3 separate regions of the Homo sapiens genome follow, and regions 1 and 2 are each linked to region 3. Evidence: fine-mapped expression QTL. A gene starts in region 3. Each other region holds a variant in brackets. All regions are shown on one strand. Distances are from middle to middle.

What was found. PIP is the estimated chance that this variant, and not a neighbour inherited with it, causes the effect.
Region 1: its variant is the best candidate, but not a certain one, in a credible set for the expression of SLC7A2 in unexposed skin (GTEx, PIP 0.79).
Region 2: its variant is the best candidate, but not a certain one, in a credible set for the expression of SLC7A2 in thyroid (GTEx, PIP 0.55).

The regions. Positions count from the first base shown.
Region 1 is chr8:17,382,968-17,387,209 of GRCh38, reverse strand. The region is part of intron 1 of MTMR7 (myotubularin related protein 7); the gene reads left to right. Among named protein-coding and RNA genes, the nearest start is that of MTMR7, 28 kb to the left of the region's middle. The variant G/A (reference allele first, on the strand shown) is at 2,466.
Region 2 is chr8:17,388,719-17,392,960 of GRCh38, reverse strand. The region is part of intron 1 of MTMR7 (myotubularin related protein 7); the gene reads left to right. Among named protein-coding and RNA genes, the nearest start is that of MTMR7, 23 kb to the left of the region's middle. The variant T/C (reference allele first, on the strand shown) is at 2,579.
Region 3 is chr8:17,495,488-17,499,729 of GRCh38, reverse strand. SLC7A2 (solute carrier family 7 member 2) reads right to left here and starts at 2,642. Exons shown (of 13, transcript NM_001370338.1): 1 at 2,493-2,642.

The sequences.
Region 1 (4,242 bases), 110 kb after region 3:
TATCTGGGATATCGGAATACCTGGGATATCTTCACATGCATAGATGCTGGTACATCAGAATACCTGGGAAGAATGATCAGTGATATCTATCATATGAGACTGGTGACTGCTTTGGGAATGAAAGGAGGAACCTGTTTAGCCGGTAAGGTGGGGCTAGGTTGTGGAAGGCCCGGTTAGCAGCAGTGGGGAGATACTGTAGCTCTGAACAGAGAGTGACATGATCAGGGTGTATCTAGAGTGACTACTGTTTGAGTGCCATCCTGGGGACTAGACTGTGTGGCAGGATGTGCTGGGCTTTGGTCACCCATCATCCACTCTCCCAGGCTCCCTCTGAGGAGCCATGCCTGCTCTATGCTCAGTTTGTATGTTTTTTTGGTGTGTGGCGTACTGCCAATCCAGCTACCCAAATCATGTCATTTCATGACCACACTGAATGGTTTAGGGGTAAGCGTGTGACCAAGTGAGATGCAGTGATACTTGGCTTGGGCTCCAAGAAGGGCAGCTGGCGCTTTTCTTCATGGCCATGGATGTGGCAGGAGATGGGACAGGGGCAACTGGAGCCATCATGAGCAGAGCCTGCTGAGAGCCAGCAATGAGGGCCCAGCCAAGAGTTTGAGGGTGAGGAGCTGAGTGTTTTCAGCCCATCTCCCCTTCTGAAGCCAGCCCTATCACTGACCTTTGTAGACGTATGATCCAATAAAAGCCCTTTTGGCTCAAGCCATATGAGGTTGAGATTTCTGTCTCTTGCTCCTATAAGAGTCCTAGGAGATAGAGGTGGAATCAGATCATCTGTGGGCAGTATTACCAGTTAGGAACTTTTTGTTTTGTTTTTGAGACAAGGTCTCACTCTGCTGCCCAGCCTGCAATGCAGTGGCATGATCACGGCCCACTGCAGCCTTGACCTCCCTGGCTCAAGTGATCTGCCCTCTTTAGCCCTCTGATTAGCTGGGACTATAGGCATGTGCCACCATGCTTGGCTAATTTTTAAATTTTTTTGGTAGAGACAGGGTCTCACTGCATGATCTGGACTGGTCTCTAACTCCTGGGCTCAAGCAGTCCTCCTGCCTCAGGCTCCCAAAGTGCTGGGATTACAAGTGTGAGCCACTGCTCCTGGCCAGGAGAGTCTGATAAATAGTCTGGGTGCCTGGCACAGAGCAGGCACTCCACAATTTAGCAGATTTAATTAATTAAATTAAAAGGGCTTAAATTGATGGGCAGCAGCTGTCTAATTTTCACAAGGTTCTTTCACAAGTAGCTTGCTTTGTATTGTATTGACTATTAGGCCATTCTCACATTGGTATAAATAAATATCTGAGACCGGGTAATTTATGAAGAAAAGAGGTTTAATTGGCTCATGGTTCCAAAGTTTGTACTGGAGGCATGGTGGCATCTGCTGCCGGGAGGCCACAGGAAACACAATCATGGTGGAAGGTTAAGAGGGAGCAGATACTTCTTACATGGTAGGAGCAGGAGCAAGACAGAGACAGGGTAGGTGCTGTACCCTTTTAAACAACCACATCTCCTGAGAATGAACTCACCATCGTGAGGACAGTACTATATTAGTGTGTTCTCATGCTGCTAATTAAGACATACCCGCGATTGGGTAATTTATAAAGGGAAGAGGCTTAATGGACTCACAGTTCTACATGGCTGGGAAGGCCTCACAATCGTGGCGGAAGACGAAGGCAGAGCAAAGAGACTTCTTACGTGGTGGTGGGCAAGAGAGAAGGCTTATGCAGGGAAGCTCCCTTTATAAAACCATCAGATGTCATGAGGCGTATTCACTATCACGAGAACAGTCCAGGAATGACCCAGCCCCATGATTCAGTTACCTCCCACCAGGTCCCTCCCACGGCATGCGGGGATTGGGAGAGCTACAATTGAAGATGAGATTTGCGTGGGGACACAGCCAAACCATATCAAGTACCAAGAGGGATGGTGCCGAGCCATTCAGGAGAAACTGCCCCATGATCAAATCACCTCCCACCAGGCCCCACCTCCAACACTGGGGGTTACAATTTGACGTGAAATTTGGATGGGGACACAGATCCAAACGATATCAACTATATTAACTATGTTTTTGAAATAACTTAGTTTCACAGCAGAATGCAGTTTTTGAAGAATTAATTGTTTTAGGCAGCTTGAGAATAGGATTCTTTGCATGCCTCCCAGATATATCCCTGTGTGTGCATCCCACCAGCATTTTTTCTTCATTATACCAGAGGTATCTAAGGGATTTCGTGAAAGGTAGAGTCTCTGTTACTTCTGGTTATGTGTCATATATTTTCTTGGATTATGCTCAATTCTTCTCTAATCTCTGATGTTTGAATAAAATAGTCCTGGGAAAAGACTTTCAATGGTTTTTTAGCTGTAGAAAGATTAAATACTCCTTTTGGAAAAACAGTTGACGTTCTTTATTTCTCTGTCAAAAGGCTGAATTTAAAAACTCCTGAAGCTTCATGGTT[G/A]CCACCTTTTGTTTCAGTAACTTTATGTAAATAGGAAAAAAGTGCTTTCTTTTTAAATTGGAAAAACCAAATGCCCTTTTTCTGTAATTATAAGAGATCATGGCAATTCTACATTGTTTGGAGAATTTGCTATAGCTTCAGTTTTTCTTCTTGTATGTCAGAGTACTTTGCCAGCTATAATTGGGTAGTTTATATTTTTTGCATACTCTATTGTTTCTGTGAGTTTCACACAGGAGAAATGAAGTTGTGGACATGAGGTGGGAGCAAGAAGTAAAACTCTGAAGTCTGTGTTATGGATATGTTTGTTAATAATTATTTATTTATTTATTTTTTAGAGTTAGGGTCTCACTCTGTCATCCAGGCTGGAAGGCAGTGGCACGATCATGTCTGACTATAACCTCAAACTCCTGGGCTCAAACCATCTGCCCACTTCAGCCTCCTAAGTAGCTGGGCCTACAGGTGCCTGCCACTATGCCTAGATATTATTTTATTTTGTGTAGAGATGGGGATCTCATCTTGTTGCCCAGGCTGGTCTCGAACTGTCGGCCTCAAGTGATCTTCCTGCCTCAGCCTCCTAAAGTTCTGGGATTATGGGTATGAGCCACTATGCCCAGCCAATAACAATTATTTTTTAATAACTAGTGAGATGTATGCTTTTTTCCCCTCTCTCACACATGCAGTTAGTTACAGATGGGATCATTTGTCCAGGAACTCTGAACTCCAACTTGAAACATCTTTTTTTAGCAACCATTATACAGACAGTGACACCTGTCATAAATAAAAATGACTTGAGAATTTCTATATGGTAGATGTTTCTATAATTACTGCATTGCTGGTTAGAAGTGGGGCTTGGTTCCTGCATGGTTCCTCCAAAGCTGCAGGAGGCCTTTGAACCTTTCGATTTGAAACATGCTGGTGCACACTTCAGAGCTCCGCCCAGAGAATCCCTCGACCACCGGGAGAACCGAGTCTTTCGGGGATTTGCCCCTCCAGACAAGAGAAATGAGCAAGCAGGGAGGTCACATGGCCAGCCAAGCTGGTCTGTACCAGATACCAAATCTTTTAGCTGTAGCTAGAGCATTTAACTTGTTAAACATATTCCTCTCTAACTGAAATCTCAGGGACGATGGAGGAGAGACTGTTGAGCCAGGATGTTTTTCCTTCATTTGCAATATTAGACCCAGACTGAAGTGGTCAGGTATGGGAGAGATCCAGGGAAGTGGACACTTCTGGTTTGAAATCTGGCTCTGCCACTTTCTAGATGCGAGGCTTGGGCAGTTGATTGATTTTTCATGCTCTTCATGTCTTTGTCTCAGCTAAGGTTAGAAGTAGCATGTGGATAATACCTAGCACAGTATCTGATGCGCAGTAGTTGTGTGGTCAGTGGTAAAAGTATTTTCGTTGTTGTTATTACCCTTCCTCCTCTTGCTCCCTCTGCTTGAGGGAAGGGTTAAAAGGAACGCACCACAGTTACGCTGCCTCCTTTGCCATAAGCTTTTCTGAAAAATTCATCCTGGATTGCCTGGATTTGGCATCAGCACTTAGTTAAGTAGGGACTGAGAGGGTGGGCACTGTTTAAAGGTAAAACTGATGCCCAGAACCATCCTCCCAACCTTGGTATCTAAGAGCGGCTCCCTTCCCTGGGACCTTCCACACCCCCCAGGTGGTGGATGTGTCTTATCTGAGCTGCCAACAGGCCCTGGGATCCCGGCCCCCCCATATCTCGGAGGAACACCAGCCGCTCTCAAGACATTCTGTCCTGACAGTTTGGTGCCCT
Region 2 (4,242 bases), 110 kb after region 3:
CTAAATAACATGGCACATAGTACATTTTAGCTGTTTTCAAGTTATTTTTATAATCATCCTCATTGCAAAAGGATGTGGCCACAAGTTTGTATGCTGAAAGAACTTCCATGAAATTTGAGAATAAAAAGAATTTTCTAAATCCAAACATTTCATTTGACCTACTCATTCACCTCCCTGCTGCACAATGAGTTTCAATATTTTTTCCTCTGGAGGAACTCTGCAAAGAATGCCTCCCTGTAACCCAACTCTAGTTCACACCCAGACTTTGGAGCATATTGTTCTTTAATAAAAACATTGATCTCGTCAAACACATGGATTTTAGGAAAGGTGTCAAGTTTCGCTCAGGAAGCCTCTGCAGTGGCCTATGAGGCAAAGCCTCAGTGACATCGCCCTAGATTCCTGAAAGAGAGTCTTTTTGGAATGAAAGTATGGAGAAGAAAGTGGGAAACACACTTTGGCTTTTTAGTGGAGGAAAGTAAGAGGGTTACATTTGTGCTGCCATGAAAGCTTTAAAAAGGGATGCAATTTTAAGGCACTGTACACCTTGAAACATTTATATGCTTGTGAGGAATGATAAAGACGTGAAACTGTAACCTCCTATGTAAGTCTACTTGAGCCATTATTTATTTATTTATTAGTAAATTTTGACATTTCCCTATTGAACTCACATTATTAACTGATTAGGTTTGGTTATCACTTCTGTCTTACATCTGGAGGAAAAACAGCATTTGGAATGCTTGTTTTCACAGATGTACATATATTTTCTCATCCTTATTTAAAGCTTATTTTTATTGCTTTTTTTCCCATTCTGAACAGGACAAGCTGTGAAGTACGCTTGAAATTAAACCTCTTGACCAGACACCCAAGATTCCGTGACTTTGTCCGTGTGATGGTTCAGTTTTATATTCTCATACTGCACTCAGAGGGAGTCCAAGAAGCTCATTTTGTACCATATTTCTTAGGCCAGGAAAAGTCTAAACTATTTTTCCTAGTGCCCTTTCCCCTGGTGGACAGCTAGTTGAAGCCTCTGGGAGTAAAAGTACTTCCCAGGACATAAACCCAACCCTTCCTCCCACAACCATTTAAAATGGTTTAAAAATAACCCCCACTTAATGTTTTGTGGCAGGCTATGACAACTTTATAAAAATTGTATGTTTACTTTTCTCCTCTTTTTCATTTATTAAAACACTGCTTATCATAGATTCCCGGAGAAATAAATTTATTGCCAAGCTGTGAAAGTAAATTTTACTCCTTAGGGCCTGTAGCAAAGCACACATTACTTAGAACAAGGTACAGTTGATCTGTGCAAGTTGCGGTGAACTGTTCACCCAGTTTGAGTAGTGGTAGTTTAAGGAAGGGATTCTGCCTTTTAAGCTAAACGGATACATTTAAAGACCCTATTGATGCATATATCCTTTCACTTGTACATTCTGGAAGTATTCCTTGAGTGCTTTCTCTATGCCAGTTTTAGGCCCTGGAGATCCAGTGGTAAATAAGACAGACAGTGGCCCTAGTTTCATGGAACTTACCGTGTAGTAAAGAATTTGTAAAAATTCTTTAGTAAAAAAATAATATTGCAGTTCTTTAAAACAATATATATGTCATCACTGTAAGCTAAGATTTTGGAAAATCTCCCATTTTTAAAAGATTTTTTCCCAGATCCTGCCACCCTCCCCCTGTAAACCTTCCAGTTGCTTCCTACCCTACTCAGAGTGAAAGTCAAAGTCATAACGTTGTCCCGGCAGGCCCTACAAGGTTTGTCCATCTACTGGGCACCTCATCTCCTACTTGTTTCCCCTCACAGATGCTGATCCAGAAGTCCTCACGTCCTCGTAGACCCTTGACCACATCTACCTGTTCCTGCCCAGGGTCTTGTCATTTGTTGTTCCCTCTGCCTGGAATGCTCTCCCCAGATACCCCCATGGCTGGCTTTCTCACTCATTCTGGTTCTCTACTGAAATATCTAATTATGTTATTAGAGAAGACTTCCCTGGGCACCTGATATGGTCTGGCTCTGTGCCCCCACCCAAATCCCATCTTGGATTGTAATCTGAATTGTAATCCCCACGTGTTGGGGGAGGGACCTCACGGGAGGTGACTGGATCACAGGGGTGGTTTCCCCTTACTACTCTGGTAAGCGGTAGTGAGTTCTCATGAGAGCTGATGATTTCATAAGGGGCTCTTCCCCTTTCATTCTGTACTTCTCTCTCCTGCTCCCTTGTGAAGAACGATGTGTTTGCTTCCTCGTCTGCCATGATTGTAAGTTTCCTGAGGCCTCCCCAGCCATGCAGAACTGTGAGTCAATTAAACCTCTTTCCTTTATAAATTACCCAGTCTTGGGTACTATCTTTATAGCAGTATGAGAAGGGACTAATACAGTATCCTGCTGGCCCTCCTCACTCAACTGCTTATCCTGCTTTAATTTCCTCTCTAGGAATCTTCTGGCACACATACGTGGTGATACAGTTCCACCATATCTTATGCCAAATTGTAATCCCCAATGTTAGCGGTTGGGCCTGGTGGGAGATGGTTGCATGATGGGGGTGGATTTCATATGAATGGTTTAGCACCATCGCCT[T/C]GGTGCTGCTCTTGTGATAGTGAGTTCTTTTGAGATCTGGTTGTCTAAAAGAGTGTGGCACCTCCTCCCTCACTCTTTCTTGTTCCTGCTCCCACCATGTGAGAAGCTTCACTCCCCCTTTGCCTTACACCATGATTGGAAGCTTCCTGAGGCCTCCCCAGAAGCAAAAGCCGCTCTGCTTCCTGTACAGCCTGCAGAACCACGAGCCGATTAAACCTCTTCTCTTTATAAATTACCCAGTGTCAGTTATTTCTTTATGGCAGTATAAGAACAGGCTAATACATGAGGGATTTCTTTTTTTTTTTTTTTAACATATTCCCTGTTTCCATGCTTTCCCACCTTCAAGCAGAAGGTACAAACTCCATGTGAGCAGTGACTTTATCTTCCCAATTCATGTGCCCCCAGCACTCAGAACACTCTATGTCTGGTACAGAGTAAAGGTGCACAATAAATATTTGTTGTATGAATGGATAAAGGAAACGGTTTAATGTGACTTGGTGTCGAAGCTTCAGTATCTTTCAATATCTTTCAACAAACATGTTTTTTTTTCTCCTCCAGTATTCTCCATTTTAGTTATATGGCCCTACTTTTCACATTTGCAGATGAAGTTTTGTTTTATTTTTTCCCCGTCTCTGCTCTGTTTCCTGTATGTGCAACATCTTCCACAGCTGAATCTTTCCTAACTTCCTGTCTGAAAAGTCAAATTCAATAATAAAGCATTCTGGGTTAATCATACTTAATTCTACCTATAAGCCATCACATAATTTATTTTTACCATAGTACTGTTAATTTTCATTCATTGAACAAATACTTAGCATCTGTGCTTGGCATCAGGCTACAAAGATAGGCAAAAACATTAGTGCCAATCTTCAAGGATCCTGCCACCGAGGGTTGCTGTGATGTTCTGAAGTGTGATCATTGTTGTTTCAGGAAGCCAGTAAGCCAAGGACCGTGTGTCTCTTTTCCTTTCTTCCCACAGTTCTAGTGTGAGTGTTTGCCTAGCATTGTTCATTGTGCTGCAGGGAATATTAGGAATAAAATAACTTGGGTTCCCATGAGAATATGATTGTGGTAATGGTTAGAGTGTACAGTAAAGATAGCGTGTAATGAAGTAGTGTAGGATAAGTAGAAACCAAGTAGTGATCAGAGAGGTCACAGCAATTCAGAGGACAGTGAATGATCCCAGTGGACTGGGGTAGTTGAGGAAAGGTGTTATTAAGGAGGTGGATCTTGGGTGTCAGGCTGGAGGTGAGTATGTTGCACTTGGTGAGTGGCAGTGTCCTTTTCTTACTGTTCTTGGTGACCTCAGAGTGCACTGTGGCAGGCAATCATGCAGCTTTGCTTATTGGGCCTCAGAAGAGGCCTCCACATCATTGGGTCTGCAAGGCATTCTGCTTTATACTCATTTCCCAGAGTGGGAATGATGGACACTTTAGGGCCGGACTGTAAGAGGAGAAAGAGAAAAATATGGTGCCAATTATGCAGTCTGTCCTTGGGGTCTTCGAAGCCGAGGAGTGAGGCATGGGAATGTGTAAATGAGCTGGAACCTGGCCTTGGCCTGGGTGGACAGAGTGTACCCCTTTGTCCTCTGGCACTGGTACTTGCCAGGGGTTGGTGGGAGGGAGAGCATGAGACTTGGGTCTCTCTGTGCCTGGGCTTTCTCC
Region 3 (4,242 bases):
AAATCTTAGTTAACTAAGTTTTTCAGGATTCATTTGGATGACAAAGCATTCAAATGATGCACCCAAAACTAAATATGTGAGTATTTAGAAATATATTCCACTGAAAGCTTTTGCTTTTGTTCTAAATGTTTGGCATCTAGTAGGTAGTCTATAAGAGTCTTTAAAATCAGTGTGTTCATATCTACATGTTTGGGGGAAATAAAGCAAACAGCAACATGAAGGTGCTCCCAAGATTCTGTTCTGAAAGTTGTCCACCAAAGGGCACCAAAGTAAAACCAGCAGATGGCTCTGAACACACAGAGAGAGAAGGGGGGAGAGAGAATGGAGGGAAGAGGGACAGAGAGAGGGAGAGAGAAATGAGGGAGAGAGGGGGAGAGAGAGAGAGAGACAGAGAGAGAGGAAGAGAGAAAGGAGGGAGAAGGAGGGAAAGAGGGGGAAAGAGGGATAGAGAGGGAGGGAGAGAGGGAAAAATAAAACAAGAGAAGACAGAGGCTAGGTGAAATAGAGAAGTTGCCAGAGGACTTCTGGGAAAAAACATTTGAAAAGGAAGGACTGAAAAGAGAAGAAATGGGCACAACGGGGACTCCGGGTCTGGCCATAACAGCCAGGAGAAACAAGGGCTTAAGCCAGGAGGTCTGAAAAGAGAACAGAAGGTAGACCACCTAGAATGGGGACAAGGCACTTCCACTCTGCAAAGGTGAGTGTGCTTGCAGTGCAAAGCAAGAAACGTGAACTTTAAAATTCTTCAGGCACATGTGTTCAAAAGGCAAAGATACATGAGAATGCAAGATGAAAAACTCCAGCGCAAGATCAGGCTTTTTAAACTGCCACAGCTCCCCTGTCTCCCCAGCTAGCTTCTATTCGCCTTCCCAGGCTCCTAAGCCCAGTGACAGGAGAGACTCTGGAATGATCAGAGATTCTGGAATGAAAAGAGCTATGCCCACTGCTTAGGAGGCCAAGGATTCTGCAAACTGATCCCCGCAGATACCACAGCGCTTTACTCTGGTCTCCAAGGCCATGGCACACCCTAAAAGATTAAAATGCCTTAAGGTAAATGACCATTCCCAGATGAAGGCACAGAATGTAAACAAAGTGTGGGCCGAGGGAAGAAACTTGAAAAATCACAATAAAGTGGCCTCCCAGAGCAGGCAACTAGCAACTTTGTAGGAAAAGGAGAGGGAAGAAGTCCTGTGTTCTGCACTGAGAGATCATTTCATGTCACGCTTCAGTGCAATTAAAATAAAAAAGGATTTACTAATTACAAAGCAATCCTAACAAGGTACATAATACAGAATATTCACATCTTATACATCTCCTAGAGAAAGATTACAAACACAGAATGTTTCACCTTCCGGAGGAGATAATTATTAACTTTTAAAGACTAGCTCAGGCAAGAATGAAAAAGTATCAAGTCAAGGCCACATACATTCTAATTTTATAACCCAGGCGGCCCTGGATGGGATTCAGAGAGCTCTTATTTGAATAAGATCTGACGATATCCTCTCATTAAAAGGATTAGTGTTTCTGCACAAACGTCTAGATAAATCTTATTACTGGTCCAAAATTAGTCACCTAAAGGCTTTAGCCAGTTTTGCACAAATATTTACAACTCTGAAGAGGCTGAGTACTTTTTCTCTTGAAATCCAGGCACTATATCCACTTCAAAAGCCACATATGATTGTGGCTTTTGCTGAGCATATTTCTTTTCGACGAGTTGAAGATGACAATCTCTCAATACCTTACTCCATAGACTGGATGTAAGCGTCAAAAGAGGATGAAAAGGTACTTTCTGAACGGACAGGTACTCTGGGGTGATGGGTTGGGAGATTCTCTAAGCCTCAAGAACAGCGTTTCATGAAACGGGCTTATAAAATACAGCCCATCTCAAACGGATTTTAAAAGGCACCCAGTTACTTTAAAATACCCAATACAAACACCAAGACGGGCTATTTTACCAGGTCCCCTGCAGAATGTGAAGGGGCTTCCAGCGCTCCAAGCCGGCTTTCTAATTTAAGCCAAGAACCGAAAAGGAGCGAAGGCGGCTTCGGGGACCCCGGCAGCGTGCAGGGCCAGGAGGTTCAGCCTGCCCACCCGGAGAGGGGTGCGCCGAGCTCCTCTGGAAATAGTGACTGAAGGGTCCCCGCGAAGTCGCCGTGCCAGCCCCTCTCCCAGTTCCAGCGGTCCCCGAAGTCCCCGGGCAGAGCCGGCTGCACAGGGACCGGACGAGGCGAGGCGCATTCCGGGGCGCAGCCCCGAGGACGAAGGTCCACGGCTTCAGCCCCAGCCCACGGCCCCGACTCCCTGACGAAGACTCGCTGGAGCGCGGCCTCAGGGCAGCTGCGCGCAGCTGGACTCGTCCCCGGGAGCCCTCGACCCTCTAGTTCCCCGCCGGCCCCAGGGCGCCCTCGCCCCGCTCCTTCCCCGCCGGCCCCAGCGTCCGGGCTGCCCCTCGCCCGCGGCCTCTCGGCGGGGCTGGAGACCTAGCAACTTACTGGGGCTGGGTTGGGGTCGCGCCAAGAAGGCGGCGGTGGGCTGCCGGCTGCAGCGCGTCGGGGGCCCGCGGCTGGGGGACGCTGGAGCAGCGGCCGCCGCCTCGCTGGTCCCGCGAAGAGGAGCGCCCGCCGGCCGCGCTGCAGAAGGAGGGCTGGGCACGTGGGCGCCCCTCTGTGTAGCCACCCGGGGCGGGGGCGGGGCGCGGGGCCGGGCGGCACCGCCTCCTCCGCGCTCCCGGAACGCGACCCCGAGCCCGCCTCCCGCCGGGCCCCGGCCGCGCTGACCAATCCCCGGGGTGGGCGGTGTGCGGCCGCTGCTCAGCGGGGTTTGCCTGGAGCCGAGCACACGTGGGCGGGCGCTAGCCCCGGGCTAGGCCGGTGGGCGCGGGCCGGGGAAGAGAGGCTGCGCGCGAGGATAAACTTCGTGCTCTCCTGGGAGGACCAAACCTCAAGGGCATTTCCGAATCTTCTAAGCAGAGTTCTAAGTGGGGTTTTGGTCCCCCCGTTTACTTTCCATTCTACAAAGATTTTGGAAATAAGAAAATAATAATAAAATATAATAATAGCAATGATAAATGGAAGCCCAGGTGGATGTGCTTTGTCAAATGCAAACTAAACGTTGATAAATAATGTGCAGTTGCTATTTTGGAAGACTCCAGTGGTATGAATACGTAGTCACGATTGTTTGGGGGTGGGTTTATAGGAAATGACATTATTTCCAGGGGAGCAAGAGCAGAAGTTACACAATCAGGGTTTCTCCTACTGCGCTATTGTTTACTTTAGGAGTCTCTGATAAGATTAAGTCACAATGTGAAAGCCTGTTAATTTTCATCCAAAACGAAGCAAAACACGCACTGAATTGAACAATAAGTGTGTGTCAGTGTGTGTGTGTATATGTGTGTGTGGTTTGTCTTTAGAGACAGGGTCTCACTCTGTCGCCCAGGCTGGAGGGCAGTGACACAATCGTGGCTCACTGCAGCCTCGACCTCCTGGGCTCAAGCTATCCTCCCGCCTCAGCCTCCCAAAGTGCTGACAACTACAGGCTTGAGCCACCAGGCTGAGAATTACAGGCTTGAGCCACCATGCCCGGCCTATTACTATTTTTGTTTGACAGAAAGGTCCACTTTACTTTGCATAGTATTGGAGTAAACGTCCCTTTAACCCACCTACTAGTAATAACTTTGGCAAAGTGCCAGATTTGTATTGCTGCCTCACAGTACATATACAATTTTAATGTGATATTCTAAATCATTCTTCCCTTCAAGACATATATCCCCAAGATCATCTAATAAACGGTGTGGGGCTTCATTCCAGAAGATAGCACACACACAAAATCTCAATGTATCTCAGGAAGCCATCCATGGATTTCATCAAAAAGTGAAAGTGTAGGCTGGGGGTGGTGGCTCACGCCTGTAATCCCAGCACTTTGGGACGCCGAGGCGCGCCGATCACCTGAGGTCAGGAGTTCGAGACCAGTCTGGCCAACAGGGTGAAACTCCGTCTCTACTAAAAATACAAAAATTAGCCGGGCGCGGCGGCGGGCGCCTGTAACCCCAGCTACTCGGGAGGTTGAGGCAGGAGAATCGCTTGAGCCCAGGAGGCGGAGGTTGCAGTGAGCCGAGATAGTGCCACTACAGTCCAGCCTGGGCGACAGAGTGAGATTCCGTCTCAAAAACAAAAGCAAACGAACAAAAAAACTGAAAGTTTAAACAGCACTATGATTACGAAGATATTATCTGATAGACCAAAT